Linked DNA regions of Homo sapiens. The protein of the gene in region 1 interacts with the protein of each later gene in a pairwise test. Each region holds a gene or a part of one and is shown in the gene's direction. Other genes may lie near its edges. The genes, in order: ST6GAL2, GOLM1, SLC7A1 and SLC26A1.

Region 1 (7,886 bases):
ATTGCTGATGAGGTTCTTTGGACTCAGAAAGTTCAAATAACATCACTAAAGGGACAAAGTCAGGACTAAAACCCAGAGATCCAACTTTCAGTTCTGTCTTTTTAATATTGGATAGTGGGCTGCAAGGAGAAGTTTAGGAAAGGATAGTTTCTTTCACATACTGACATGTTTTTCTATTGCTCTGTCTGGTACAGCTCATTGCCAGCTGAGGTCAGGTTGTGGCCCCAGGACCCCGCCTCTGAGGCCAGCCTCTATTTCCTGGACGGCAGCCCACAGACTAGCGCGGGTGTCAGCAAGCCTAAGGGTAACCAGTTGCATTTTGGTTTTATTGTTCCTACTGCAGATACTGAAAATGGCATCATTCCTATATCTGATGCTAAAAAATAATGTTTTTCTCTCCACCTGAAAACACTGACAGAAAGGTAGAAGAAGCTCCTGCTGGCCGAGGATTTTGTCTCCTATACATATGCAAATACCTGAAGCATTTTTTTTCTAATGGTGGTCTATTTCCTTATGAACATTTCCAAAGACAAAGGGAACTACTTTTTTAAAAAAATCTATGGGTTGGCTAGGAAACAAATGTTTCTACCTGATCTTGTCAGTGGATAATGGGTTCCAAAAAGCAAGAATCTGAAATTCTTTTTTTTTTAAATACTGATCGGCCACATGAAAATTCGTTTCACTGATTAAATAGGAGGAGCCCAGATATAGATTTTCCTTTCTGAGGTACTAATTTCTCAAGCAAGGGAAGAAATCAATGTGTTTTTGCAATGCTACAGATGGAAAATCTCAGGTAAATCAGAAAACGAAGGCAACTTGTTTAGAGAAAGTGGTCCTGAAAGTTTCTATCGGTGAGTTTTCCCATCTGTAAAATAATCTATAGTTTTATTGTGAAATTTGAGTGGCATAATGAATGGGAGAAAAATATATTTATATGAACAATAGGTAAGAGAAATAAAATAGCCCAGATTCACCAATGGTGGAGTTAGAAGATATTTATTCTTCATCCCTGTCCCACCTGAATGCTTCTCAGCTGAGTAACTGAGCTTCCTGATTTGGTTGATTGTTCATGATGTGCTTCAAGTTCCTGAAACAGGAAGGAATTGTCCCTGTGAAAGCTCAGCTGGTTAGTTAACACAGGGTGAGAAAAGGAGAATTGAGGAACCCTGAATTTAAAAAAAGAAAGAAAGGAAATTCATATTATTATGAGCAAATGGATAACAGCAAGTGGATTTCTGAATGCTGCCTATCTGTAGGAATAAGTTTATTGTGCTTTGTTGTTATTGATGATTTTGTAAGGAAAATAATATTATAGTGCCAGAGGTACTCAGGAATTCCTCATGAATCTACAGACCAATAAAATAATTAAATAATCTGCTCCTTGTGTCTCTGAGTAATTAAACTAAAGGGTGCCAAAATATTTTATTTACCATTACACTTTGACAGAAGCAATCATCAGCATATAGCTTCCTGTATATAAACTGGCTTTGTGGTTCCTTTGGGAAGCAATAGATTTAAGTCGGTTTAGTGACTGTGTATTTACTACCTTGATCATAAGTAATGAACTCAATCCACTTAAAGTTTTACAACAGTAATTTGCATATTTGCCTTAAGATGGTAGTTTTTCTACTTCTATAAAGTTGACTGTTATTTGGACACTTTTATTTAACTCATTAAAATTTCTTTAAGATATCAACTTTGGCAGTATTTACGCAGAAAGGATAGTAAGTGTATAAGATATATATACACTATAAAAAGTGTACAATTTTTTCTGTTTCAAGGTAAAGTGTTTTAATAATGGCCACTGTCATTTATTAATTACTACAATTTATTAGGTATAACATGTCAGGCACTGGGGGAGATGCTTTTAACACATGCTCTCTACTTACAACAAACCTTGAAGATAGATACTATATAATTTTTTTTTTTTTTTTTTTTTTGAGAGGGAGTCTCTCTCTGTCACCCAGGCTGGAGTGCAGTGGCACCAGCTTGGCTCACTGCAACCTCCGCCTCCCAGGTTCAAGCGATTCTCCTGCCTCAGCCTCTCGAGTAGCTGGGACTACTGGCGCTTGCCACCACGCCCGGTTCATTTTTGTATTTTTAGTAGAGACAGGTTTCAACATTATGGCCAGGCTGGTCTCGAACTCCTGACCTCGTGATCCGCCCGCCTCGGCCTCCCAAAGTACTGGGATTACAGGTGTGAGCCACCGCGCCAGGCTGAAGGTAGGTACTATTACATCCATTATACAGAAGAGAAACAGAAGCCCACAGACTTTGCAACCCCCTCTGCGCCCCTCTACTATTAAGAAGGTGAGTCTTTCTGCAGTATTTCCTTTCTCTATCCCCACCAGCTATGGGTCTCTATCAGGTTGTTTGTTTCTGTTTTGTTTTGGTCACTTTTAACCACACTGTATGTATTTCACATTTATAAAATATAATTTTTCTTTTTTTTTTTTTTTTTTTTTTTTTTTTTTTTGAGACGGAGTCTCGCTCTGTCGCCCAGGCCGGACTGCGGACTGCAGTGGCGCAATCTCGGCTCACTGCAAGCTCCGCTTCCCGGGTTCACGCCATTCTCCTGCCTCAGCCTCCCGAGTAGCTGGGACTACAGGCGCCTGCCACCGCGCCCGGCTAATTTTTTGTATTTTTAGTAGAGACGGGGTTTCACCTTGTTAGCCAGGATGGTCTCGATCTCCTGACCTCATGATCCACCCGCCTCGGCCTCCCAAAGTGCTGGGATTACAGGCGTGAGCCACCGCGCCCGGCCATAATTTTTCTTTTTTTAAAAAATATCTGTGTAACACATTGTTCATTCAGGCAGTTCCGCAGAATTCCATGTGTCAGACATAATTAATACAATTGGGGAAATACTGAGTAAGCGTTTTCGGCCCACACTTTTGTTTGAACACAGTGCATTATACCCACTCGATTTTAGTTTAATTCCCGTGCTGTTTTACATTTCTGTAAACTCTTTGAGGGAGTTCTGGGCGCCCACTGTCTAGCTCAGAGTTCCAGGCTAAGGTAGGCACTAATGAATGCTGAATGAATTGGGTAGCCAGTTAATTGCTTTTTCCCCCCTAAAAAAAAAGTCTAAATTACTTGAATAAAAGTATTTGCGGATTTTTAAATAATACATTTAATGGCAGATCTCTGTCTCCAAAACGTGTGTCCTTCTAGCGACTGAGGGTGTGGGGTGGGGTGAGGGGTGACTAACCAGTCCCCCTGAGATGGGCCCAACCTTAGCAATATTATCCATCTACCTGGGATTCCCCTACACCTGAACAGCTCTTTGGGTCCGCGAGAGAACCAGCGGGGTGGGGCACCCAATGCCAGGAGTGCGCGCGGAGAGACACGCTGAAGTTCACAGGAGAGTATTTACCAGCAAACAAAGGGCGGCGCGGTTTGGGGTCCTAGGACCAGCTGCCGCCGTCTCGAGAAAACGCAAGGGCCGCGGTGACAAGTGGACATTCCGCACGCGACCAGACCGACACTCGATGGGCACCTCCCCGCGGCCCCGCCCGCAGGCTCCAGCTGCCCAGCTCGCAGCCGCCCACTGGCTCCGGAGGCTGCTTCAACCACTTGTCCCGCCGGCTTCTACCCCAAGAACTTTCCGTCCCTCTTGGGGTTGGGGACCGGCAGTGTGGAGGGGCGGGCAGGTGGGGGTCTCCAGGGAGCACCGTCACCGGACTTGGCGAGCTACCCTTCCCAAATGAAAGGTGGCCCGCTCCCAAGTCCATCCCATATCCTTAGAGAAGCTCTGGGAGCGAGGGCCAGGCGGCAGTGCGGAGCCTGGTTGAGCGAGATGAACAAAGGGAGCTAGCGAGCCGGGGAGGATGCTGCGCTCCCCTGCGCCCCACCCAGCCGGCTGCCAGGCGCTGCCAGGCGCGCAGGTAGCCCGGCCTTCCGCGCTGGCGGGGGGAGGTGTTGGACAGGGTACACAAAGACTCACTTCCGCCGGGGCAGGCGCCGGGACTCCCTCCTGGCCGCCCACAGCCTGTGCGCATTCCTGCATTCCTGCCGCCGCCCGGGACCCGAGTGCCCCGGAGGTGTCCAGGCGCGGTGCCAGGCGGGTACTGTGCAGGTAACCTTCGGAAGAACTAGGGCTGGATGGAGGCGGCGGCCGGGGAGAAACACGCCTTTTTAGGCAGCCGTGCTGCCCCGCACCGCCCCACGCAGCCCAAGTCTGCAGTCACTCTCCGCGACAAGCAGAAATCCGCGCGCAGCCAGGGAGCGCCCCGCCTGCGCTCGCCGGCGGGCCGAGCTGCCGGGCCGGGGGCGCGGGGAGGGGGCAGCCCAACTTCCCAGTGCCCGGCTCCCGCCAGCTAGGTGAGCCTGGAGCGGGAAGGATGAAAGGGATCGCGGAGAGGGAGGGGGCTCTGGGGCGAGCGGAGCTCGGGGGCGGGGCGCGGCGCAGCCTCGGTGCGTGGGCCGGGAACCGCCGCCTCTCCCCGGGGCTCGGGGCCGCGGTTCCTCTGGCCGCGGGAGCCGCCGCCGCGCTGCCCGAAACAATGAGGCGTGCAGCGCGGGGCTGAGCGTAGCCTCCCGCCGGCTTTGAGGCCGAGCCACCCGCTGTGCCCCGCCGCCCGCGCTTGCAGCTGCCGCCGGCGCGGAGCAGCGCTGGCCCCGGAGAGGTGATCCCGCAGGCCGCCTGGGACGGGAGCGCGGGGCAGCTCCGAGACCCCACGGTGGCAGGAGGAGGACTCGAGCCTGCGGCAGGACGACTCCCGCCGCGCACTCGCCTTCTGCAGCCCCCAAGTTCCGCGGCGTGAGTCGGGGACCCCGGCCAGGGTCCCAGCTCTAGCGGGCGCCAGCGTGAGTGTGGGAGCGCGTAGCGCGCGCACCCGAGCGGCTGCCGGGGAATAAAATGTGACACGCACGCCTTGGACTCCAGTGCCGCGCTGCCAGGGGGAGCACCGAGCACCACGGTGTCGTGCGCTTCGAGGCGCGGCGTGGGAAGAAGGCTGGTAAGGGAGGGCACTGGGTAAGGGTTGGCGACGCCTTTCTTGGTGGCGCTGCAGCCTCCGCGCTGCTGTGCGCGGAGTTACACTCCGTGTTTAGGAGCGAGACCCGTGTGTGGGGAATGTTGAAGGTGGTTTGGGGAAAAGCAGGAAATTCTGGAGAAGCGAACGGGAGGACGGCTTGCGCTTTGGGGACGGGCGGATACAGTTGTGCCCCTGTGGCTCAGTAAAGGTGATCTTTTATTTTGGCTCTTTTGGCTCTGGAAGGGAGTGAAGATTTTTGTCTTTCTTCAGCCAACCCCCGTACAAAACTGCACTTCTTAAAGGTTAAAGTGTGTTCTGTTCATTTCTGGTTCTCTGTGGCTATAATGTTTGGGGTAGTAGGGATCTTTAGAATCCTAAATACCCGAGTGTTAATTCTTATGTAGTTGGCAGGCGGCAAACTCCGCTTTTGGGTTTACTTTCCGCGGTGTTACGGAGTGGATATTTGATGCATTCTTTTGAGTAGGGAGTGTGACGTCCATCTCATTCGGATTTGCCGGTTCTGTGTTGGGGGACTGAGTGAAGTTAAACTCAATGGCTCCCGCAAGTGCTGCCTTCCAAAGAGCTGAATAGCTGTGTTTGGAGAAGCTGTGCTTTCCAGGAATTTAAATGAGACTTTTTGTGATTGCCTTCCAGGTCTCTCCTCCTAGTACCATATTTGTTTTGTCAGGCTGAACTTTCAAAGCTGTTTTGTAATCTGAGAAGCACTTTTGGGGGGAAAGTAATGCTTGGCTGGATTTTTGTGAACTTATTTTTATTGGACATGCGAAAAATTTGGCGAGAGGCAAACCATATTTGGTTGAAATCATTGTCTTTTGCACCACTGCCGTTCTGACCATAAAGGGGCATGCTGACCCTCCTCGCCGAGGACTGCCTGCTTGGGTGAGGGGGGTCTTTGGTGGGCTGGAAGCACATTTTGTATTTAGAGAACTTTCTGCACACTTGAAAAACCCCATGCTGGTTACTTTGATGCTTCCCTTTTTTGAAATTCTGATCAACATTTTTTGCCAACTTGAAATATAATTTATGACCAAGGAAGAATTCCAATAAAGTGAAGTGCTATATATATATGATGTATATGTATATACATACACATATGTATATATGTGTGTGTGTGTATGTATATATATATATATATATATATATATATGCGCTGCAAATTTAGGGTTAAAACTTTTTTTAAAAGGAAAACTGATGTGTGGCCTTGAACCTGTTTTTACCCACTCTCCTTCCCCCATTATTTTTCTGGAACTGACAACCAAAATTTTTATATACCACTTGAGGAATTTTGTACTAATGCATTAAAAGAAACTGTTGGCAAAGGTGAATGGATATTGTGCTCAAAACTGATGAAAGTCTAAAATAATAGGTGAAGTGCCTTGAATTTTACTGCAAAGTTAAAAAGGCACTCTATCCAATTTTTGCCGCAATAGATACAAATGGTAGCATCTTACATTTTTGCTTGGTGCTGTGAAAGCTTCTGGAGTTTTGAGTTAAATGTCTTGTAGAGATTGTGATAGGAGTCACTGCTTTATATGGAGTACTGAGCTCCACAGTTTAGAGAGGCTTTGGATGGATACTCCTGGAAAGAGTGAGGTCAGAGCAAGGACCAACATTTGGTGAGTTTGCTATGTGGTGCACAGGATCTAGGAAGCAAGGATACAAAATTCAGGATTTTTAGACTAGAGGATTCAAAGTTGAGACAATTTAACATTTGAAAATATGTGAATGATTTATTATGCAGAAGAGGGCAGTTATCTGTGTTGAGTTTCTGATGAGGATAATTAAGAGGGAAAAGGTTTACTCTGTGGGGTGAAGACATAAGTTGAGTCTAGGGAGTTGTGGCCAATCCAGCCAGCAAAGATTAAATAGCGAAGGGACTGCTGAAAAAATTCCTGTACGTGCTTGTTTCTGGAGGTTCCACCCCCCCACCCCCGAGTTTCTCTTCTTTCTGAGATGATTTCAGTGTGTGAGGCTCTGGTCTATTGCTTATACTGATACTGACTGAAATTTTACCCTCCAGGTTTAGAATTTATCCAAGCATTTCTCAAATGATTAAATCTTTTCTGAAAGACAAACTGATTTCTAGGCTTCTGCCACTCCTTCTTAGGTAAATAAATGATAGGTTCCTTTCCAAAAACTTGGAGATATTTGTCCTCTGGGAAGCTCTTAATTAGTTTGCAGATTGCTACCTCATGGGTGAGACTTTGAATAAAAATATCTTATGCATGATAATAAGGACAGTCTTTGTTAATGCATTTGCTCTTTAAATGTATTGTGTTATTCCTGATTGATTGAGTTTTTTCTTTTCCTGGATTTTCTGTAATATGATCTTAAAATTTAATTGCTTAAATTAAATTAAGTACTTAATTCAGCATGCATAAATGTCTAAGGGAATCAGATAGTACCCTCATGGCAGGTGTATGTTAAGCTTTGATTTTCTAAGCATTGAAATCTGAAATCTCATCCCTTAAAAAAAATGGGATGAAATTCCCAAATGACTATAAAAGTAACAATTGCATATAATTATATACTAATTTTGGAAAGTGGAAGGGAAACACAGATGCATATTTGCACAGAAATTTTCAATGTTCTTACACCAATTTTTGATATCAATGCCAAACACTGAATGGGCTGTAGATGACCAGCCACTGTTAGTGGATTACCACATTTTCAGTTTAATATACCTACCATTTTTCCGAAAGCTCTCCTTCCAACTTTTGAGAAATTTCTTTCTAAATGTTATTAAGTACACAATGCGAAGATATCAGTGTTAGAGAAACACGGATTTATTATGCCCCTTACAAAATTTGAAATTTACCCTTGCTTGGTCCCAGCCACCTCCCACCCCTCCCATTGAATTGATAGGGGAACAGTTGCAATTCAAAA
Region 2 (7,020 bases), on another chromosome or scaffold:
AGCTGAAGTGGGAGGATCACTTGAGCCCAGGAAGTTGGGGAAGCTGAGGTGGGAGGATCACTTGAGCCCAGGAGTTGAGGCTGGGATCACACCACTAGGCAGCTATTTCAGCCTGGGTGACAGAGTGAGTGTGTCAGCCTGAGCAACAGAGTGAGACCCTGTCTCAAGAAAAAAAAAAAAGGAAAGAAAAGAAATGCAGTGGTGGAGCCCAGGTATTGATATTTTAAAAAGTGTCAGGCTGGGCACGGTGGCTCATGCCTGTAATCCCAGCACTTTGGGAGGCCGAGGCGGGCGGATCACAAGGTCAGGAGATCAAGACCATCCTGGCTAATGGGGGAACTTCGTCTCTACTAAAACTACAAAAAATTAGCCAGGTGTGGTGGCAGGTGCCTGTAGTCCCAGCTACTCGGGAGGCTGAGGCAGGAGAATGGCATGAACCTGGGAGGCGGAGCTTGCAGTGAACCTAGATCACGCCACTGCACTCCAGCCTGGGCAACAGAGAGAGACTCCATCTCAAAAAAAAAAAAAAAAAAAAAGTGTCCCAGGTGATGCTGATGCCCCTTGAGTGTTGAGGACCACTGGAACAGAAGGACCCAGATGTTAGAAAATGTTATCCCTTTCCTTTGGAGTAGGATGAGGGGGATGTAATTTATCCTTTTTTCTTTTTTTTTTTTAATCAGAGTCTCGCTCTGTCGCCCAGGCTGGAGTGCAGTGGTGTCATCTTGGCTCACTGCAAGCTCCGCCTCATGGGTTCAAGCTTTTCTCCTGTCTCAGCCTCTTGAGTAGCTGGGACTACAGGCATGTGCCACCATGCCTGGCTGCTTTTGTATTTTTAGTAGAGATGGAGTTTCACCACGTTGGCCAGGCTGGTCTCAAATTCCTGACTTCAGGCCATCTACCTGCCTTGGCCTCCCAAAGTGCTGGGATTACAGGCATGAGCCACTGCACCCGACCAATTTATACTCTACTGTGTGTAGTTTCCTATTTTTTCCTTAGCAAAAGCCATTTGGAAAAGTCCCTGCCACCCCCTCTTGTATTTGTACTTTTATATTTTAAAAACAAGGTTAGCTGGGCACGGTGGCTCATGCCTATATTCCCAGCACTTTGGGAGAACGAGGCAGACGGATCACCTGAGGTTGGGAGTTCCAGACCAGCCTGACCAACATGGAGAAACCCCGTCTCTACTAAAAATACAAAATTAGCTGGCCGTGGTGGTGCATGCCTGTAATCCCAGCTACTCGGGAAGCTGAGGCAGGAGAATCGCTTTAACCCGGGAGGCAGAGGTTGTAGTGAGCTGAGATCACACCATTGCACTCCAGCCTGGAAAACAAGAGCGAAACTCCGTCTCAAAAAAAAAAAAAAAAAAATCATTGAGGCTGGGTGCACTGGCTCATACCTGTAATCCCAGTACTTTGAGGGGCCCAGATGGGAGGATCACTTGAGGTCAGGAATTTGAGGCCAACCTAGGCAATAGTGAGACCCTGTCTGTACAAAAATTGTTTTAAAAAATTAGCTGGGCATGGTGGCCCATGTCTGTAGTCCCAGCTACTTGAGAGGTTGAGGGCAGGAGGATTATTTGAGCCCAAGAGTTTGAGGCTTCAGTGAGCCACAATTGCGTGACTGACTCCACCCTGGGCGACAGAGACCCTGTCTCTAAAATAAATAAACAAAAATTTTAAAAAGTTTAAGAGTCAAAAAAGAGACTCTTGTGATCAAGAGTCTCTTGAGTATATTCAGTGCTTGCTGATATCAGCTGATAATTGAAAGAAAAACGTGGTTTCCCCTTTCATCCTGAGAGGCCAGAAGCTGGTAAGACATGAGCACAGGTCAGAATTTCCACCCGTGGGAATTCTGGGGGTGCTTTATTTTAGATGATTCGGCTAGATTGCTTCTTTATCCCCTGGCAGGCCCCCATACTAGTAGCTAGCTGTTAAGAAAAAAGAAGCCTTTTGGTGACCCACCTGAAAAGACCATAGGGTGAGGATCAGTTCTCCCATGTTCTCACTGGTGAGAATTGGGTTTTGCAGGTGAATCCTTGGTGGTATCCTCTTCCTTACCCGTCCCTTGTCTTTTTTGCCCACCATCCCCTTTCCTCCTCTGTTGCTAGACACCCCTGGTGTAAAAGGCTCTCTGTGCTCAAAGGCTGTTTGTTGCAGTGCAGCCACGCTCACTCTGATAAGGTTCTGTTTTATCTGGCTTGGGAAAAGCCATTTGGAAAAGTCTACTTTCCTTGTTCCTAGAGACCAGTGCTTGCATCCAGGCAGACCTGGCTTTGAATTGAAGCCCATTAACAAAATTTATGGCATCTTTCTTCTAAGCTGTATTTTTGTGCACTCTGTAGCTCTCACACAGAGGCACTGTTTTTCCTAACATGAGGTGTACAATGCAGCAGTTGCACAGATACGGTCCCTAAAGTGAGAAATGAATGTTCGAAAGAAGGTGCTCTCGTTTGGCATGGAGTGAATGCCTTGTTTCCACCTCAAATCCTAAGATGGAACACATTTTTCCTGGTGACTTCAGGCAGATGGCACACCTCCCACTTCCGTTGTGTGTCATGAAGGAGGAGACACTTCTATAGCCAGGGCTGTGCCTGAATAATGATGTACATGGGGGGGAGTTCACATTCACCTCCAGAATGGGTTTCCTGCTTTGCTTGAGAAATGCTTTAATTGGGTGTCATTAGTAATCCTGTCAAGGGTAAAAAAAACCTCCCTTGTTAGGAATCAAAGCAAAAAGCTCTCTCTGAGGAGTAATGAGGAATATACTCTTTCTAATATGATGCGGAAGCACTTAATATTTGTTATTGGTGTTTACAGAAATGATTACTTCTCAAACATTGCTGCTTACAGAAATGATTAATTCTCAAACTATGCCGGGAAGGTGAGTATGGTAATGATTTTACAAGGGAGGAATCTGAAGTGTAAGAGGAATCATGTCTTGCCCCAGGTCTCGAGCTAATCTGTGGCAGGTTTCGGGGCGGTGCCTGCTCCTCCGAGCCTGTCCTGGGAACTGGCCACACTGCCCTGGGTTCACAGCACCATGGGCTCTGTGCGTGCCGTTCACATACTCTTCTCCCTTGACAGCTTTGCACGTCAAGGAGAAGCTACCAGCCCACGCTTCTTGGCAAGACTCCTTTCCTCTTGGTTGTAAGGATGATACGGTCTGCTTCGGAGATGATAAAACTAGTATTGATGTTTATTTATTTGCTTTTACTTGGCAGATTCTCAGCGCTGATTTTGAGATGATGGGCTTGGGAAACGGGCGTCGCAGCATGAAGTCGCCGCCCCTCGTGCTGGCCGCCCTGGTGGCCTGCATCATCGTCTTGGGCTTCAACTACTGGATTGCGAGCTCCCGGAGCGTGGACCTCCAGGTGTTTTGTTTTCTTTATTGTTATGTTTATTTTATGTTTATGTTTTGTTTATTTTGTTATGATGGGGTCCCAGGGGTTTGTTGTTTATTGCCAGCCAGGGCGTTTTGTGCAGGGCACACGCTTGTAAGGTGAGTTTAGGGCTCTGCACACCCCCACAGCCCTGGGCCAGACCCCAAGCAGCTTTGGGTGGGAGAGGTCCCCTCTGTGGTTGTGTAGGATTGCGGTTGTGGTATCCCTCCCTGCCTTTCCTGTGAGTTAACAGCATTCATTTGAGCTACTGGGGTGGTTCTGGGAAGACAGCTTGCTTACATACACTGGCCATAGTCCGTTGTTTGCGGTCCTCCGGCGCCCAAGATATCGAAGAGTAGTATTGGAAGTGTGCTTGGATGATGGGTGTAAGAAATATGTTTTTAAAGGTACCAATCTTTATCTTCATTACTTAATGATAATAATAATTTTAACTTCCTCATTTACCGGTGCAGTCATGGGTCAGGTGCAGTGCTGAGCAGTGACAAAGATGCTCCTCTTGATTGAACTTGAGTCGGGCCCTTCTGAGCCGTCTTCTTGACTAGGCCTTGATCTTGGCACCTCCCAACTCTCACTGCCTGTCTTTGGCCTGCCCAGCCCAGTCCTAGCAAAGGATCCCGCTAAGCCATCCTTCTACCCCTGATCCTTGACCAAGTTCCTCATCCCTACCCTTGCTGTCTAAGTCCTTGGCCTGTGTTTAGCAAGAATCTTGTTAGGCCAGTTTAGCAAGAATCCCCCTACTCTGGGGGCGATTTCCATCCACTGACTCCCCGCACTGTGCTCGTTGGCTATAAATCCCTAGCTGTCTTTGATGTGTTCGGCATTGAGCACAATTTCCCTCTCCTATTGCAATCGTTTTGAATAGTCTTTCTTACCATTTTAATGAATGTCAGAATAATTTCTCTTTCACAGTACTTTATACAAATTATCTCCTTTTGTGCACAAACCCTACAAGGCTGGGACTTGACTTTCCTCATTTCACAGGGGGTCAGACTGAGGCACCAAGAGGTTGAGGTGGAGCAGGGATTCCAACCTGCATGGGCTTAGCCGTGGCACCCCAGCACGTCTGTGCTCTGTCCTGTTCTCACACTTACCCTCCTGGGCTTGTACTCCCTGTGTCTCAGCTTCCACGGGAGTTCCTGTTCTCTGGGCAGATGAGGTCTGCTTGTCTGGAGTTGGAGAACTGAATCTGTTTTCAGAAATTGTATCTGCTAAAGAGTTGTTAAGTGCTTTGTTAGCAGCGAAGAAGAACTAAATATTTGAGCATCATCTTATGCCAGGTAAAGCATGAGGCATTCTGTGCACTTAGCACATTTAAGCCTCACAAAAACCCAGTGGGAAGTGTGGTGTGAGTGCACAGAGCCTTCCTTCACTTACACTGACAGAGACCATTTTTTCCAGAAGAAACCGCTCCAGCTTCTGTCCAGTTGACTTAAAACACAGCCTTGGGCACTTGTGTGTATAAGACTGGTGCTGGCCCTGGGCCCCAAGGTGGTCTTTGTGGAGGGCGCTCAGGTGGTCCAGGCTCCTCAGGTAACTTGGCATCAGCCCTAATGCCACGGTCTCCTTGTAGACACGGATCATGGAGCTGGAAGGCAGGGTCCGCAGGGCGGCTGCAGAGAGAGGCGCCGTGGAGCTGAAGAAGAACGAGTTCCAGGGAGAGCTGGAGAAGCAGCGGGAGCAGCTTGACAAAATCCAGTCCAGCCACAACTTCCAGCTGGAGAGCGTCAACAAGCTGTACCAGGACGAAAAGGCAAGGCCTGCTTTGTTTCCTCTCAGTTCTTTTCTAAGGGATGGTGTCTACATTGTCTGTTTCTTCTTGGCGGGAGGATGAGCAAGCGGCTGGGTTTAGATTTATGTAATTATGTGGAAAGAGCCTATTGATCAAGCTTTGGGCATTCTCTCCCTTTCCCCTCCAAGTCCCTGGCTGGGCTTGCGGTGAAGCCTTTTGCAGTGGTAATAAACAGGAGAAATGCAGAAGAACAATTTCAGATTCATCCTCCTATTGGCTTTTTTTTTTCTCCTATTGGGTTTTTTCTTCCCACTTTCCACAAACATGTATTAAATACCTACTCTGTGCCAGGCCTATGCCAGGTGCTTATATCTCAGAGAAAAATAATATTTGTGCCCTCCAAGTATCTAATGGAGGAGAGGAGAGGCAGACTCTACTAAATACTAACAGAGAAAGTAGGGGACTGCACCCTTGCTTTTAAGCTAGGAAAAAAACCAACAAATCCTGCGTAGATTTAAAGGGGCCTTCCTGCTAATTAAAATATCTAAGCTTTATGTGTCTTTTTTTTTTTTTTTGAGATGGAGTTTGGCTCTGTCGCCCAGGCTGGAGTGCAATGGTGCAATCTTGGCTCACTCTGCCTCCCGGGTTCAAGCGATTCTCCTGCCTCAGCCTCCTGAGTAGCTGCGATTACAGGTGCCTGCCACCACGCCCAGCTAATTTTTATATTTTTAGTAGAGATGGGGTTTTCACCATTTTGGCCAGGATGGTTTCGATCTCTTGACCTCGTGATCCACCTGCCTCAGCCTCCCAGAGTGCTAGGATTACAGGCATGAGCCACCGTGCCCGGCCTGGTTTTCTTATGTAGGAATATATGACTATACTTTCTTTATTAAATTGTGTAACTGTGTGAGTTACTAATATCTCCTGTCCCAGAGTGCATCAAACTTTGGCCTCTATTATTAACTAGAAAAATTTGGCTTTTTTTTTTTTTTTTTTTTTTTTTTTTTTTTTGAGATGGGGTTTCCCTCTTGTTGTCCAGGCTGGAGTGCAATGGCGCCCTCTTGGCTCACTGCAACCTCTGCTTCCCGGGTTCAAGCAATTCTCCTGCCTCAGCCTCCCAAGTAGCTGGGACTACAGGCATGTGCCACCACGCCCAGCTAATTTTTTGTATTTTTTAGTAGTGATGGGATTTCGCCATGTTGGTCAGGTTGGTCTCGAACTCCTGACCTCAGGTGATGTACCCGTCTTGGCCTCCCAAAGTGCTGAGATTACAGGCATGAGCCACCGCACCTGGCCTGAAAAATTTGGCTTTTATAATGCGTGTACCTCTCTCTCTGGAGTGGCTAATTTATTGGAAGAATGTTGTAGCTCAACTTCCATTATCTTGAATTGTCTCAGAAAATGAATTATTTCCAGGAAGGGACTCAGACTTTTCTCGCATAACTGATTTAAAATTCAAGAAGTACTTTTTTTGTTGTTTAATTTGCAGAGTACTTTCCTATATTTGCAAGCTCATATTTCTTCTCTGGGAATTGTGCATAATGTTGTTGTAATAAAGTGCTTCTTTATGTTTCTTCCCTTTTCTTACTGGTGAGATATGCTTTTTGTGCTCCTGAAATCCCCTTTAACCTCATCTCTCAAAAAGAAAAAGAAAAAAAAGAGCATCAAGTAGTTATTTGAAAAGAGAATCTGTTTCCACAGTTTTTCTCTTTTAGAATATGCGATATAAATGTCTTTTCATTTTGGTGAGCAAGGGTGGGTTCTCACATCAAACCTTAGCTGCAGGAGGATTTTAGCTGTGGTTTGGTGGTAGGAGGCATGGAACTTGTGAGTCAGGCAGACCCGGGTTTAAAGTTCCCTCAGCTGTGTGATTTTAGGCAAGTCACTTAAA
Region 3 (6,795 bases), on another chromosome or scaffold:
GCCACTAGGGTGGGGAGCTTCCACATGAGATAGATCACCAGGGGTGGGTGCAGCCTGTAGTCCCACGCCTCTGGGCATCTCACCCCAGGGGCTGGAGGGGAGGATCTCATTTCCTTCCCCTCAGCATCTGAGTCATAGTGCTGATAGCCAGGAAAGTGGCCCTGGCCATTGCCCCTCAGGACCATGTCCCTACAGCCTCGCAGCCCTGAGTTTGCATGCTACGGGCAGATGGCTGCTGCCTCATCTCCCAGGGCCCTCGAGGGGTGCTTTTCCTCCAGGAAATACTTTGCGGCCCACTGTCTGCTGGCAGCCGGGTGGGTCCTCATTCCCTGCAAAGTCCAGCCTGTTAGACAGACGTCTCCTAGAGCCTTTCTGAGAAAAAGCTGCTCACAGCTCACTGGCCACTTCCTCCAGGCCTGGTGAAGGCAGAGGGGCGCCTCTTCCCAGCATCCCTGTCAAAGTCCCTGTGTGCAGGAGCCTGAGCTCCTTTCCTGGGCTGTGGGTGGCTGAGTCCTTGCTTTAAGGCCTGTTTTCCTGTGTCAGCCACACAAGGTGGCCCCAGCCCCTGGGCAGGTGGTAAGAAGCATAGGTCCTGGACCCACCCTGGAGTCCCGTGTGCAGGAACAGGCTGTGGACTCCTATGTGAAGTCCATTCCTGGGGCTCAGTGTCTCCTGCAGTCTGACGCTCAGTTATGTGGAGAAATGGGCAGTGGGACTGTCCAGGCTGAGAGCCTGGAGACCTCCAGCACCTGCGGGAAACCCCATCTCCATAGTGCACATTCTCGATACTCTCGTGGCCTCCGGGGGCATCAGGGGGCTAAGCTGAAGGACCCGATGGCCTCTGGTGGCCCTGGCCCAGCTGCTCTGTCTGCTCAGGAAACACCGCAGCATAAGGCCGTCCAGAGGAACGTAGGGCTTTGCCAGATGTCGAAGCAGACAGTGGCCTTCGTGTGGCAGCTGCTCCAGATGTGGAAAGGTCACAGGGGCCGCTGGCTGCGGGCTCATGCCAGGCAGGGGCAGGCCGCCTGAGAGGGTTTGCTGTGGGACCGCCCTGGGCTCTGAGCCCTGCCTGCGGTGGTGCAACCGGCGGTCTGTTCACGCCCGTCTCTGCTGTCGGCCCGCAGGCTTCATCATCTACTTTGGCTATGGCCTGTGGCACAGCGAGGAGGCGTCCCTGGATGCCGACCAAGCAAGGACTCCTGACGGCAACTTGGACCAGTGCAAGTGACGCACAGCCCCGCCCCCCGGAGGTGGCAGCAGCCCCGAGGGACGCCCCCAGAGGACCGGGAGGCACCCCACCCTCCCCACCAGTGCAACAGAAACCACCTGCGTCCACACCCTCACTGCAGCCAAAGGTGCAATTACTTGACCTGCAGCCCCAGCCCACCCTCGGCTCTGCAGCCGGTTCTCCGGGCCCTGGTCACCTCCAGACAGCTGCCTGGCCGGGGCCACTAGGCTGCGGCTGGCCACTGTGTCTCCTCACTTCTCTGAACAAAGCAGTTCCTCCCCTACCAGCTCAGCCCCGAGCTGCCGCAGCCTCAGGCAGAACGGAGGTCACCTTCTCTCCTTATCTTGGGAACCAGGCCTTCCTCCCGGGGACTGTTCTGGGATTGAAATTGTGCATACTCCAAACTTTCGCAGCCATCTTCCCGCTCAGCCCCAGACACCCAGCAATCAAGCCAGATGAGTACCACAAAACAGTGTGTCCCCAGCAGCTCCCCACCCCAGAGCCAAATGACAGTAGTGCACTTAAAAAGGAAAATCAGGCCTGTTGTCCTTCTCCGGTTGCATTCAGATGGGTCATTAGGGCCGGACCCTGCCTGCCCCTTGGCTTCTCAGGGCTTTGCTCTGACACCATGACAGCTGCCCGGGGCTGAGGGCAGCTGGCTCCACTCAAATGAGGAAGAAGGGATCACTCCCATTAGGGCCTGCTTTGCTTATGCATGTGTGTGCACATGCATGTAAACCAGGGACCTTCAGCTCACGGCCTCCAGGCCTGGGCCAGTTCTTGCTGCTCCTGCCGTCTCCCCCGACTGGCTGTGTCCTGAGTAACTGGAACATGAGACAGTATCTGCAGGACTGGCCCCATGGTGGCCGAGTCAGAAGTCTGTTTCCTGTGAGTCGCCACCGTTCACTCAGTCTTGCCCTCCCATGCTTTGGAGCCAGTCTGGTGGCTCCTGTAAGGTTCTCAAGGCTGGTGGCAGCTCAGTCTGGGGTCAGGACATGTCGGGGTCATGCGTTTCTGGCCCTGACATAAGCTGTCTGGCCTCTCTGTGACATGATGAAATTGAAATCAATCCACAGTCCATGAAATTGTGACACTCCACCAGATTAAGTTAGGGCATAACATTAACTTGGAAATGGCCATGTCATCACCCCTGCGGCTGTCCTATAGCTGAGATGCGTGGGTCGCAGGGGAGGTGATTTCTAGGCATATTGCTGTCCCTTTTGTGTATCTGTCATCCGGATGCTTCGGACCCCACGCCTCTGCAAGTGGGAGAGACCCGAGCATCCTCCCCACCCCCATAGCTCCAGTGCACGCCACCCCCGTCTTGCCTGGGTCGGGGCCTGCGGCCAGCACCATTTCACACACACTCCTTGTAGATGGGAGCCAGAGGAAACCTGAACGTGGGTGGAGCGTTCCACTGAGTCTACTTCAGGAGACAGAAGGCCCATGCTGATGGGGGAGGAGGAGGGATGTGGGCATTTTGGACACCAGGGGAAATGGAAATGCTGCTTTCAAAACTTAGTTTCCTTTCCATTTCTTCCTAGTCTGGCCTTTGACACAAATCTGGTAGAAAGAAGCCTGATAAATTGAGGGCACTTGTACCCTCCCTGTGCCCCCAGAAGGTTCTTGGAGAGAAGTGCAAGAATTTGTGAACACGGCGGTGGAGGGCGGGTGGATGGCCATGGGCTGAGCCTCCGTATCAGGCCTGCTCACCTTGCTGGGAGCTTTATTCTGATCTCATTTTGAATGTTCCAGAGGGAGCATCATAAGAGCCCAGAGCTCCGATTTCCAAAGAGTGATATTGACATTTATGGAGATTGGTGTTGTAACATATTTTGATAAATACTAACTTATTTTGTTGGGGTTTTGGTTGTCTCTTGTCTTAGGACCTGGTAGTTATTTGCTTGATTTTTTTTTCCGTTATTTTCTACATAGGCAAAGAGAATTCGAGGGATAGACAGTCTCCAAGAAAAGTGAAGTGGTGGGAGAGAATTGCTTTTTTCTTTTTTTTCTTTTCTCTAGTTTTTCTTTCTGGCTGAGATTTCCGTGCAAGACAGCACCCAATAGACTATTTAGAGTTGACATTTGACATTTTAATGGGCGCCATGGCTCATTTTGTAGATTGAGAAGGTGCGTCTCCCCTGCTCCAAGTCTCATCATGACAGCGTGCTGACAGCTGGGAGTCTGTGGCCTTCCTCACGCAGAGGCCTTAAAGCTGGACACAGAAGCACGCCTAGGCTGGGCAGGGATGGGACCCATGCCCCCTCCTTAGAGGACGGGCTTCCTGGTTAGGAAAGGACACGTGGGGGTGCCTTGCATAATAGTTCACTGGTCACCGTGCTTTTATGAGTAGTGTTTTTGTGCACTTGCCAGGGGTTTTCTCTCTGTGTGAGAGGGGAGTGATTTAAGCAATGGTGTCTGGAGTAAGCCTTACAATTTTAATAGACTTTTTCTTATCATATCCCTCATTTCTTTCCCTGAAATAAAAATACACACAAGCAAAAAAAAAATGATAGTTTCACATCTCTTAGTTCCCTTGCCCAAACAAGAATATTCTTAGTTCCACTGGCCAGGATTTTCCTACATAGTCAGAACTTACACATTACTAGAGGCACACCCACCAAGGAGTATTGTGTCTACTTTTATCTGTGCACCAGCCACAAATACCCACATTGGAAAGACCCATTTGTGATGGGTAAACATCCCTTCCTGTCTCCCACAACCCCTGTGACTGCCCTGCATGTGTTCATGACCTCCGAAGGCCCAAATTCATGAAGCAGCAAACCCAGCAGATCTCCACCCCCCTGCCTCAGGACCTCTGCTGAAGAGGGGGATGAAGTGGGTCTCCAGGGAGGCAGTGGGGGCCTTGTTGGCAGCTGGCTCGGGAGCCGGCTTACAGGAGGGCAGCTCTGCAGTTGGGAGGGGCACCGTCCGGAGGAGACCAGGCCTCTACACACCCCCCACTCTACTTATCATCCCTGCTCACACACCCTTGTCCAAGGCTTTATGCATCGGATTTATTTTTCCAAATCAAGAGGACAGTGATAGATGCATTTTCCCCAGGCTGTCTCAGAAAGGTCGCTAAATGTATACTGTTGTCAGAATTGCTGAGATCTCCCCCCACTTTTGGTTTTTGCAGCAGTAAAAACTCTTTCCACTGTGACTTATTTTCTCTCTCAGGCAGCCAGCCACCTGGTCCCTTGTGCTGACTCTAGCACAGTGGCCAGGATCCAATACGAGTCCAGGGGTGACCGCAGGATGGTGGGGGCAGCGGGCTTCTCCACCTACCCCAGCCACCAAGGCCCTGACGCACTGCCTCCTGCACCTTCAGCACATCCCTGTGCACAGCTGGAAGGGTGCATGGCCCGCTCACCTTTGTTCAGATGGGTGGAAACGCTGATGATACCAGCTCCTCCCTGCCGTGCCCCTGCCACGGAGCAGGCATTGTGAACTGGCTGGTGTTTGCAGTCCCACGTGGCATGGCCTCCAGCCCAACCCACAGTGGAGACTGGAGACAGGGCAATGAGTCTGGTGGGGGGCACGTGGACATGCCCCATAGGGGCCCCACCCAGACTTAACAGGCAAGGTCCTGGGCATTGCGCGACGCAGGACTCAATGCTAAAGCAAGCCTGCCTGGCTCTGTGCCAGGGCCCCTCTTCTGATTCACACATCCCATTTTTACACAGACCCTTCCTTCTTAATAAAGGCTGACAGTTCTGTTGGCAGCCAAGAACCCACACCATGAAGACAGGGAGTGAGGGGCCTTTGTGCCCAACTCCAGCACAGCTGCGTTCTGGGGTGTGTGAGAGGCATGTTCGTGTCTGTGCGCTGGTGGTCTCGTGAGACAGTTCCGAGGACGGGGAAATTGCAGGGTGGTGGGGGCGTGAGGCTTATATGTGGAACTGATGCAGAGTTCGCCTGCAGACGGATCTGGATATACACTATGTATAATTGTTACGTGTAATTTAAAATATATCTGTTTGCCATCGTCATGAGAAGATTATATGTAAGGCTCTGAAGGGAGAGGGAGATGTACATTCTGCCAGGCTCCTGGGGACCTTATCCGAGTCATGAAATTGATTACTGTTGATCCAGTGGTGCAAGAAGCTACACTCCATGTGTCATCACGCTTATGACTCCTAATGTATTTTTAAGGCAAAAAATGTCAGCCGACTCCATCTTCACCCCTCGATTCCTCGAGTCCAGCCTTTCTGTGCCAGTGCTTCACTGAGCCACAACGCTCTCGCCATCGGGACCCGGCTGGGCCTGGAGTCTCGGGGCACAGTTGCCATGGAGCCCTCCTGGGTCATTCTACAAATGTGCTGAGTGCCAGCTGAAAACCCCACAGGAGATGGAGTACCTTGGCCAAGCTTAAAGAGAAGATTTTCTCAGGGTATTTATTAGTGTGTCCAGCAGGGTCAGGAAGCAGGATGGAAAGATGCACTCAGACTGTTAATTTATTAACAAGGCAAATGATTTTGTGTTTCTTGATGACAGACTATTAAGTTTGGGACTTATTTTCCCATTTGAGAAGTTATAATATATATTTAAGATGATAAGTTTCCTGCTTAAGTTGTGCCTTTCAGCTTCAATGAGTTTAAGGAGCACTAAGGGTAATGATACCAATGAGGGTTGGTTTATTATCAAACCTGAATAGCTGTGGTTTCTCCAGTAAATATTTTCTTCTACTGAACATGGAGCCATTATTAAGAGTTGTGTGTTTTTTATTATGTACATTTGTATATTTTTTTGCTTGTTTGATGTTCTATTTTTCTAATAGTTTTCTTTTAGTTTCTTAAAGTTGTGATACTAGATTTAGATTCTGATGCTAACTGCAAATCAGGTTGGTCTCTGCTGGGTCTCTCCTGCTTTTATTTTACTTTAAGGACAAGTGTAGTTGTCGTCCACCACCTTTCAAAAAATGTGAAACTGCCCTGCCTCCCCTTTTTGCTGACAACACTGTGTACATTGACCACTTCCTACCATACTTTATGTTGTAAAATCAAACTCTTTTGTGGTACATTATCTCATGCTTCTGCAAATTCGAATAAATTCTATGGCTTCCATGTGCATGGTGTGATCTCAAGAATCCTAGTGGGTCTCTCCTGGGACCCAGGCCTGGAAGTGCCCCATGGAGAGTTCCAGATCCCGCTCTGCTTCCCCACAGCCCGTGACTTTAGTCCTATCTTCTCACTTTCCTGTAGCCATTTGGGGAAAATCCTTATTCCAACAATTTGAGCCTCAACCAGAGAATCCCTTGAGCCCCCATTTTGGATCTCTGATACTGTCTGCAGATTTATTTGGCTTTGGGGCCACAGAGGTCTTCCTTCCAACCAAGCTGTTGGGATAAAGCAGCTCAGAGGCTGCCAGTTGTCAGGCATTTGCTGAAGGACTTGGTCTCTGGCAACAAAACGCCCTCACCTGTTGCCGCCCCAGTCTGTGCTGGCCTGCACATACACTATCCTGTTAGAGGGAGCAGAGTGCATGCAGGGCGGAGGGGCTGTCGGGGAGTGTAGCTATCCTGGTAATTGTTACTATCTCACTCCCTCAACTCCCTTGAGAAAGGA
Region 4 (7,818 bases), on another chromosome or scaffold:
CTGGTCCCCACCTGCTCCTGTACCCCGGGCTGGGTGTCCAGCAGGAGCAGCAGGAGTCCCTGGGGTCCACCCCACCCGGCCCCTACCACCTCTCCTCCCCTCCATCCAAAGGACACACTGGTAGCAAAGAAGTATAACTTAAGAGGCACTTGGATAAGAATTAAATGCCCAGAAGGTGCATTCCAAAGTCCCACGGAGTTGGAGTAGCGGGGCACGGTGACCTGGAGGAAAGTGAAGACCCAGCTGGGCTTCAGGTTTTCTCTGCAGAACCCCAAGGCGATAGCCCGGCAGCCCCTGACCCTAGCGGGGGGAGCCCCAGCATCAGAGATGTCCCTGGCCTGACACCCAAGGCGCCTCTGAGTGTCATCTGGCAGGGCCAGCCTCGCAGCGAGGGGAGCCCGGGACAGGGATCCCCGCCCCCAGGCCCAGGAACCCCGGGGTCAGTCCACAGGCCCGAGGGCCCACCCTCCGCCTGGCCCCCATTGGGAGGGGCCTTGAGAGACCGACGCTGGGGAGGGGACTGGGCCGGCGAGATGGAGCGCGCAGCCCACCCCCAGGGCCGGAGACGCAGACGAGCCACCGCCCAGCCCGGGAACGGAAGCCGCGGGGGCGCGTCAGCCCTTGTAGACCCCGCGCGGGGTGTCGCTGGGGCCGCGGCGGCCGCACAACGGGCTCATTCACCGCGCGGCCGCGGCTGAGCGGCCGCCCGGGTCCCCACGTCCCCGCCCCTGGGCCCGAGCGCGTGAGCCGCTAAGACCGCGCGGCTGCCGGGCCTGGTGAGTGCGCGGGGCGGGGCCGCGCGTGCATGGGGGTTCGCAGGCGGTGGGGGGAGACCGCGCGGGGTGGGGAGCAGGGCCGCGCTCTCCTGAGGGTGGGGGTGGGAGTGCGGGGCAGGGGCGGAGGCCGGGCCCGCTGGGCTGGGGGCGCGGGGCGGGTACAGACCCGCCTCTTGGGAGAACCTGCATCTGTGGCCGGGACGAAGGGGACACAGGTGCTAGAGGGTGCGGGCCGGGGCCTCCTCTTCTCCAGACCTCGGAGCTCGCCCACCCGCGGGAGGGTCTCTGGGAATAAACTCGGGTCCGGTCTCAAAGCCCTGTCGGCCGGGCTTCTTCCCACGGGTGGGAGGCAAGGATGCAAGGTCTCCTTTCCCAGTAAATGGACTCCAATGTAAAACGGCTGATTTAAAGACAAAACTAAGGAAGTAAGCGTGTGACACAAGACTGGCCAGGGGTTCAGGCGGGAGGGGGGTTCAGGAGGGAGGCGGATTCAGGCAGGTCCCAGTTGCTGGGGCCCCCACGCCCCCTGTCCTGCGTGGGCCAAGCGGGGAAGGAAGGAGGTGTTGGCAGCCCTGCGCGTGCACAGGCTCGGGGTAGAATGGGCTACCCACTCTCTCTGGCCAGCAAGGCCCCTGGACCCCCTGGGCACTCAGCCTCTGGGCCTGGCCACAGGACAGCACCAGCCACTGCCTCAATGCTCAGAGAAACTGAGGCAGAGACACGTGGGAGGGGGCAGGTCAGGCCCCAAGGATCCTGCAGTGATGACCTCACCTACTTTAGACACCCAGCCTAGGTGGGGACTAAAAGGGCATAAGGCCCAATGCCTGCAGAAGACCTGAGGCCAGGCCCCTGCAGTGCGGCTGAGGCTGTTCCTGAACTACGCTCACCTGCCTAAAACCTCACCACAGGTCCCCATAAGCCAGCCTCTGGAAACCTCCACCACCTTTCCTGAGGGGGGAAGGGCCACCTCCCACTCCAGGTTTTTCTGTGGCCCCAGGTGGCACTGCCCACCCCACCCTGCATGCAGGCGTCTGCACCAGGTGCCCCACCCCTGCTGTAGCACCCAGGTCCTCCCTGCCTCCTTTAGGGAGACCTTGAGGGAACAACCCCAGCCCCCTGGGTCTCCCCAGTTCTCCAACAACCCTGCTGGTGGCTGCACCCAGAGGGGCCCTTATCTGTCCCAGGGAGGGACCTGAGGCCCTGCGTGACTGCCTTACCCCACCCACTGGCCAACCGCTTCTTACAGCACAGCTCCCAACTGCTGAGCAAACAGCTGCTTCCCAGGGACCACTGGGGCCCAGGTTGGGCTGGGGTGGAAGCAAGGGCTCAGACTCTGGAGGACAGGGCAGGGGCTTCGAGGAGAAATCAGACTTGGAGAGGGCATCCCAGGTGGAGGCTATGGGGGTATGAGACCCTGGAGCCTGTTCAGCTCTGCCCGAATCTCACACTCAGGGGTACGAGACCCCAGAGCGTTCAGCCCTGCCCGCATCTCACACTCTGGGGTACGAGACCCTGGAGCATTCAGCCCTGTCCACATCTCACACTTAGGATGTCTCCTACTCTCTGGCCATCCCAACTACATTCCACTCCCATTTCACCTCCAAATGGGGGCACTGCAGCCCAGTCTTCCCTGGGCTCACCCAGGGCTGTGGGGAACTAGCAGCGCTTGGCAGACGGCTTCCACAAGGAGGTACCTTTGGTGGGGTGAGTGTCCAGGGTCTCCTCCCTCCGGGGCTGTGCCCCATCAATGTCAGTGTCCTCGTCTTGGGGAAATGGAGCCCCGGCACATCAGCTGGTTCTGCGAGACCCTCGGCTTCAATCCCACATGGACAGGAGAAGTAGAGCCTGTGGCTTCTGTTCCCCGGACAGAGTCAGGCTGCCCAAGGTGCCAGGGCCGGGTTGGCCTTCCAGCCCCACCCGAGGGACCCACCGCAGCCTCCTGGCCTCCCTTGGGATGGGAGAGCACTGAGGGCTGCAGCCCCTCGTTACACTCACCCTCCGGCCACAGGTGCCCCGTGCAGGCTCCCACCCAGTACTCACTGTCAAAGTCGGGGGGACCTGAGGCTCCCAAGGAATTTTTTTTTTTTTTTTGAGACAGAACTGGCCGGGCACGGTGGCTCACGCCTGTAATCCCAGCACTTTGGGAGGCCGAGGCGGGTGGATCACAAGGTCAGGAGTTCAAGACTAGCCTGACCAACATAGTGAAACCCTGTCTCTACTAAAAATACAAAAATTAGCCGGGCGTGGTGGCACACGCCTGTAGTCCCAACTACTCAGGCGGCTGAGGCAGGAGAATCGCTTGAACCCGGGAGGCAGAGGCTGCAGTGAGCCGAGATTGTGCCACTGCACTCCAGCCTGGGCAACAGAGCGAGACTCCATCTCAAAAAAAAAAAAAAAAGACTTGTAGGCTGGAGTGAAGCGCTACAAACATACCTCACTGCAGCCTGGACCTCCAGGGCTCAAGCAATCCTCCTACCTTAGCTTCCCAAAGTGCTGGGCCAATGACAGCGTTTGTTTTTGAGACGGGCTCTTGCTCTGTGGCCTAGGATAGGGTGCAGTGGCCTAATCATACCTCATGGCAGCCTCAAACTCCTGGGCTCAAGCCATGCTCCCACCTGAGCCGCTTGAGTAGCTGGGATACAGGCACACACCACCACACCCAGCTAATTTTTTACTTTTAATTTTTTAAAGGTTGGGGGGCAGGGGGCGGCCGGGTGCAGTGGCTCAAGCCTGTAATCCCAGCACTTTGGGAGGCCGAGGTGGGTGGATCACGAGGTCAGGAGATCAAGACCATCCTGGCTAACATGGTGAAACCCCGTCTCTACTAAAAATACAAAAAATTAGCCGGGCGTGGTGGCGGGTGCCTGTAGTCCCAGCTACTCGGGAGGCTGAGGCAGGAGAATCACTTGAACCCGGGAGACAGAGCTTGCAGTGAGCCGAGATCATGCCACTGTACTCCAGCCTGGGCAACAGAGCGAAACTCCGTCTCAAAAAAAAAAAAATTAGCCGGGCGCGGTGGCGGGCGCCTGTAGTCCCAGCTACTCAGGAGGCTGAGGCAGGAGAATGGCGTGAACCCAGGAGGCAGAGCTTCCAGTGAGCCGAGATCACACCACTGCATTCCGGCCTGGGTGACAGAGCAAGACTCCGCCTCAAAAAAAAAAAAAGAAAAGGTGGGGGGCGTCTCACTATGTTGACCAGGCTGGTCTTGAACTGCTGGCCTTAAGCGATCCTCCTGTCTAGGCCTCCCAAAGTGTTGGAATTACAGGAGTGAACCATCGTGCCTGGCTAATAATTCCTTTTAAAAAGCAGCTTACCCTTATTTTCACGTGTGGGCCTAATTTAGTTCACTTAAAAAAATCATTTATCTTCACCCCAGCCCTATGAGGCAGGCACTGCCGGTCCTGGTCTGTGGTAGAGGGGAGGGCAGAGGAGCCGTGAGGGTGACCAGGCGCTGTGGGTCGGTGCTGGGTCCAGTCAGACCAGGACTCCTGGCCAGTCACGGCACCTTGACCCCGGCAGTCCTCGCCCTGGGCGGTGAGCACCACACACAGGGCTTACGCGAGCACACACGCATATGCACGCACCGGCAGCCTTGGGCTGAGCCGGCTGTCAGCCTCTGCCCTGCTCCAGCTTGGACCAGGCTGGCTCCTTGCAGGACCAGGAGGGTGTCCGGCGACTGGACACGGAGACCAAGCCTCCCTCAGCCCCGCCTGGGTTTGAAGGCTGCTGCACTCGACCCCAGACCCCAGAGCTGAAGGTTTACCTGTGCTCAGCCCCTGAGCCCCCGCCTCCCGCTGGTCCCTAAGCCCCCCCGGCAGGGCCGCAGAGCCACAGCTGCAGCGGCTCCTGGGAGGCTGGGAGCTCCTCAGAGGCCCACACAGCTCTAACTCCTACAAGCCCCTGATTACAGTTCAACTCCCGGATCAGCCGATCAGGTAACATGGCTGGAGAAACCCATGACTCAGCAATCTGTAGGTAAATAATTGAACTACAGAGTCCAGGGCACAGACCACTGCCTGCAGGTTGGCGCCACCACCCCCACTCTCCCCGCTGCTCGCGGGAGCCAGAGGGCCCTGCGGTCCTCGGTGGTCTTGCCAGCCCCTCGTCATCCCAGGGCCCTCCGCGCCTGTGAGGACTCCCTCAGGTAAGAACCATCCTGGGCCCAGATCTCAGCTGCAGCAGAGGGGGGCGTGGGAGCCGAGGCCAGAAATGCCCTGGACTCGTGGTTTCTTAGGGGCACCCTCAGGCTCAAGGCAGGTGGCCCTACTGTCCCCATTCCACACACCTGGACCCCAGGGGCTTGGGGTGGGCTTCAGGGCATCCAGGGACCCAGTGTGGTGGGGTCTTCCAGGGAAGGGGACACAACTCTTGCAATGTTGCCTGAGGGCCAGGACCCCCGCTCTGTGCCCCAGGGGTGCTGTGCCCAGCCTGCATGTGTCAACCTACCAGGCTGGGCTCACTGCCCCAACACACCCGCCAGGAGACTGGAGCTCGCACACCCTGGGCCAGCGTGCAAACAGCAGGCTCAGCCCAGGCTCCAGGGTGTCCTGGGCACCTGGTGTCCTGGGAGCAAAGTCTTTGCCTAACGTCGCTGAGAAGAATGTTTAAAGTGAAAGTACATTGGAGTCTGCAAACAGGACAGACCCGAGGCCTCACGTGGGACCAGTCAGGCCTCTAAGCACCGCCTCCCTAACGCCACGGTGTTTTCCGAGATCAAGGGAAAGGTCAGGTGCCCTTCCGGCTCTGCCGGCCCAGGGTGACTGTGTGCAGCGGGCTGGGCCCTCTCGGTGCTGCCTCGGGACAGTGTGTCATGGCCGTTCCACAGTGAGCTGGTGCAGCCTGGGAAAAAGGGCGCCTCACGTCCCAGAACTGTCTGGGCAGGGGAGACAGACGCCAGTCACCCTCCTCCCCTCCCAGCTGGCCCTGATGGGGCCCCCGTCCAGGCATATTCTCAGAATTCTGTCCCAAGTCCAGGCGGATGGGCTAGGCTAGTGTCTGAGTGCTGCTCCCCCAGCAGACTTGGGGTCCCAGTACCCACAAAGCTTGGCAGGGACATAGGAGGCCTCTTCCTGAGACTTCCGCCAGCCCCAGGACCCACAGGGCAGGTGACAGAGGGGTGGGTGGAGGTGTCTCCAGGAGAGCAGGCGATGGTTTGGATGGGGGAGGGAGGGCTCTGGTGTGGGCATGGGGTGGACAGCAGGACCGTTTGCCAACCTGGGGAGCCAGGGAGGTGGACACGGAGCAGCTGGACTCAGGCTTGCCTGCACCTGTGTCCAGTGACTGTGACATTCTGACGGTAGGCACATGTGCGTGGTGGCAGCCCAGCCTGTTCCTGCCCCGTTGGGGAGGTGAGCTTCAGGAGGCTACAGGGTGGTTTTCAGCCAGGAACCGCAGAGCCAATAGGCCGGAGCTGAGCCTGGACAGGGTGCCGCCACGCCGCCCCTCAGCACTGCTGGCCTCAGCACACCCCATGGCATGGGCTTGGTGTCGTAATCCCATCTCACCTCACGATGGATTCTGGATCCAGCAGGGCCCAGCGTCCATCCATACCGGGCAGGGGGCTGGGGCCCGCGCTGCCAGGAGAAGGCCCAGCACCAATCCCCGGCCCTGGGTGGGCGAGGGGTCCGCCCCAAGGGGCCCGTTGCTGCCGGGGACCTTGTCGTTTGGCCCTGGATCCGGGGGCTCCTGTGACCATGCCCTCTTCTCGGCCGCAGGTCGGCCACGGGACCTGACGCAACAGGATGGACGAGTCCCCTGAGCCTCTGCAGCAGGGCAGAGGGCCGGTGCCGGTCCGACGGCAGCGCCCAGCACCCCGGGGTCTGCGTGAGATGCTGAAGGCCAGGCTGTGGTGCAGCTGCTCGTGCAGTGTGCTGTGCGTCCGGGCGCTGGTGCAGGACCTGCTCCCCGCCACGCGCTGGCTGCGTCAGTACCGCCCGCGGGAGTACCTGGCAGGCGACGTCATGTCTGGGCTGGTCATCGGCATCATCCTGGTGCCGCAGGCCATCGCCTACTCATTGCTGGCCGGGCTGCAGCCCATCTACAGCCTCTATACGTCCTTCTTCGCCAACCTCATCTACTTCCTCATGGGCACCTCACGGCATGTCTCCGTGGGCATCTTCAGCCTGCTTTGCCTCATGGTGGGGCAGGTGGTGGACCGGGAGCTCCAGCTGGCCGGCTTTGACCCCTCCCAGGACGGCCTGCAGCCCGGAGCCAACAGCAGCACCCTCAACGGCTCGGCTGCCATGCTGGACTGCGGGCGTGACTGCTACGCCATCCGTGTCGCCACCGCCCTCACGCTGATGACCGGGCTTTACCAGGTGAGGAGCCCTGCTTGGGCACAGGGAGGGGCCCAGGGCACCCCCCCTTAGGTTTTGGCCATCCACGAGGGCAAGGCTGGGGGCAAGCACAGGGTTGGCAGAGGAGGTGCTGGCCCAAGACAGCAAGGCTTGGGCAGAGCTGGGGCGTGCCGGGGCATCCCAGGGCGAGGCACCGACGCGGAGAGGCTGTGGATGCAGGAGGGGAGGGGCACGGGGAGCCAGTCCGGTGGGCCATGGCCTTGGTGGGGACCAGCAGGCCAGGTGTGGCTGTGGCTCAGTGGTGCTGGACTGAGGCCATGTGGCCTCCCAGGCCTTCTGTCCTAGGTGGAGTGGGGGATGGCCTCCCCACCCCCGAAGGTCTCCTGCCTTGGCCTGTCCACCTTGGCCCCCGTTGGCTCCACATCTGCATGGGGGGCAGTGGGCACCATGTGTAGGAAGCAGCAGGAAGGGGTTGCCTTCTGATACCAGAGGTCTTAATTCTGAAATAAAACGGGCTGCTGCACGTGACAAGGGTTAGACGTGTCTATGGCCAGCTGTGTGCACGTGTGATGCTCACGTGGATGTCACAGTTGTCTGCGGGCATGAGCACGCGTGGAACCAGAACTCAGGCCCGTGTGAGGAGTCTGGTTTGGAACACACGGGGCCGCAACACAGAATTGTCAGGTCCTGTGCCGTGACCACCACCCCTCGGGCCATGCCAGGTGCTGGTGAGGGGCAGGTGGCTC

The links.
Region 2: the proteins of ST6GAL2 (region 1) and GOLM1 interact in binary tests that used the Homo sapiens proteins (3 or more experiments, as listed by UniProt).
Region 3: the proteins of ST6GAL2 (region 1) and SLC7A1 interact in binary tests that used the Homo sapiens proteins (3 or more experiments, as listed by UniProt).
Region 4: the proteins of ST6GAL2 (region 1) and SLC26A1 interact in binary tests that used the Homo sapiens proteins (3 or more experiments, as listed by UniProt).

Annotation. Positions count from the first base shown.
Region 1 is NC_000002.12:106,883,168-106,891,053, reverse strand, and holds the start of ST6GAL2 (beta-galactoside alpha-2,6-sialyltransferase 2), read left to right. Parts: upstream 1-4,886; 5' UTR 4,887-4,961; exon of another isoform or gene 4,962-5,187; intron 5,188-5,817; exon of another isoform or gene 5,818-5,879; intron 5,880-7,886. UniProt on the Homo sapiens protein: Transfers sialic acid from the donor of substrate CMP-sialic acid to galactose containing acceptor substrates.
Region 2 is NC_000009.12:86,075,542-86,082,561, reverse strand, and holds part of GOLM1 (Golgi membrane protein 1), read left to right. Parts: intron 1-3,220; 5' UTR 3,221-3,241; coding exon 3,242-3,370; intron 3,371-4,970; coding exon 4,971-5,150; intron 5,151-7,020.
Region 3 is NC_000013.11:29,508,913-29,515,707, reverse strand, and holds the end of SLC7A1 (high affinity cationic amino acid transporter 1), read left to right. Parts: intron 1-1,124; coding exon 1,125-1,228; 3' UTR 1,229-6,294; downstream 6,295-6,795. UniProt on the Homo sapiens protein: High-affinity, low capacity permease involved in the transport of the cationic amino acids (arginine, lysine and ornithine) in non-hepatic tissues.
Region 4 is NC_000004.12:990,403-998,220, reverse strand, and holds the start of SLC26A1 (sulfate anion transporter 1), read left to right. Parts: upstream 1-4,816; 5' UTR 4,817-4,920; intron 4,921-5,285; exon of another isoform or gene 5,286-5,500; intron 5,501-6,490; 5' UTR 6,491-6,517; coding exon 6,518-7,093; intron 7,094-7,818. UniProt on the Homo sapiens protein: Sodium-independent sulfate anion transporter. Can transport other anions including bicarbonate, thiosulfate and oxalate by mediating sulfate-thiosulfate, sulfate-hydrogencarbonate and sulfate-oxalate anion exchange.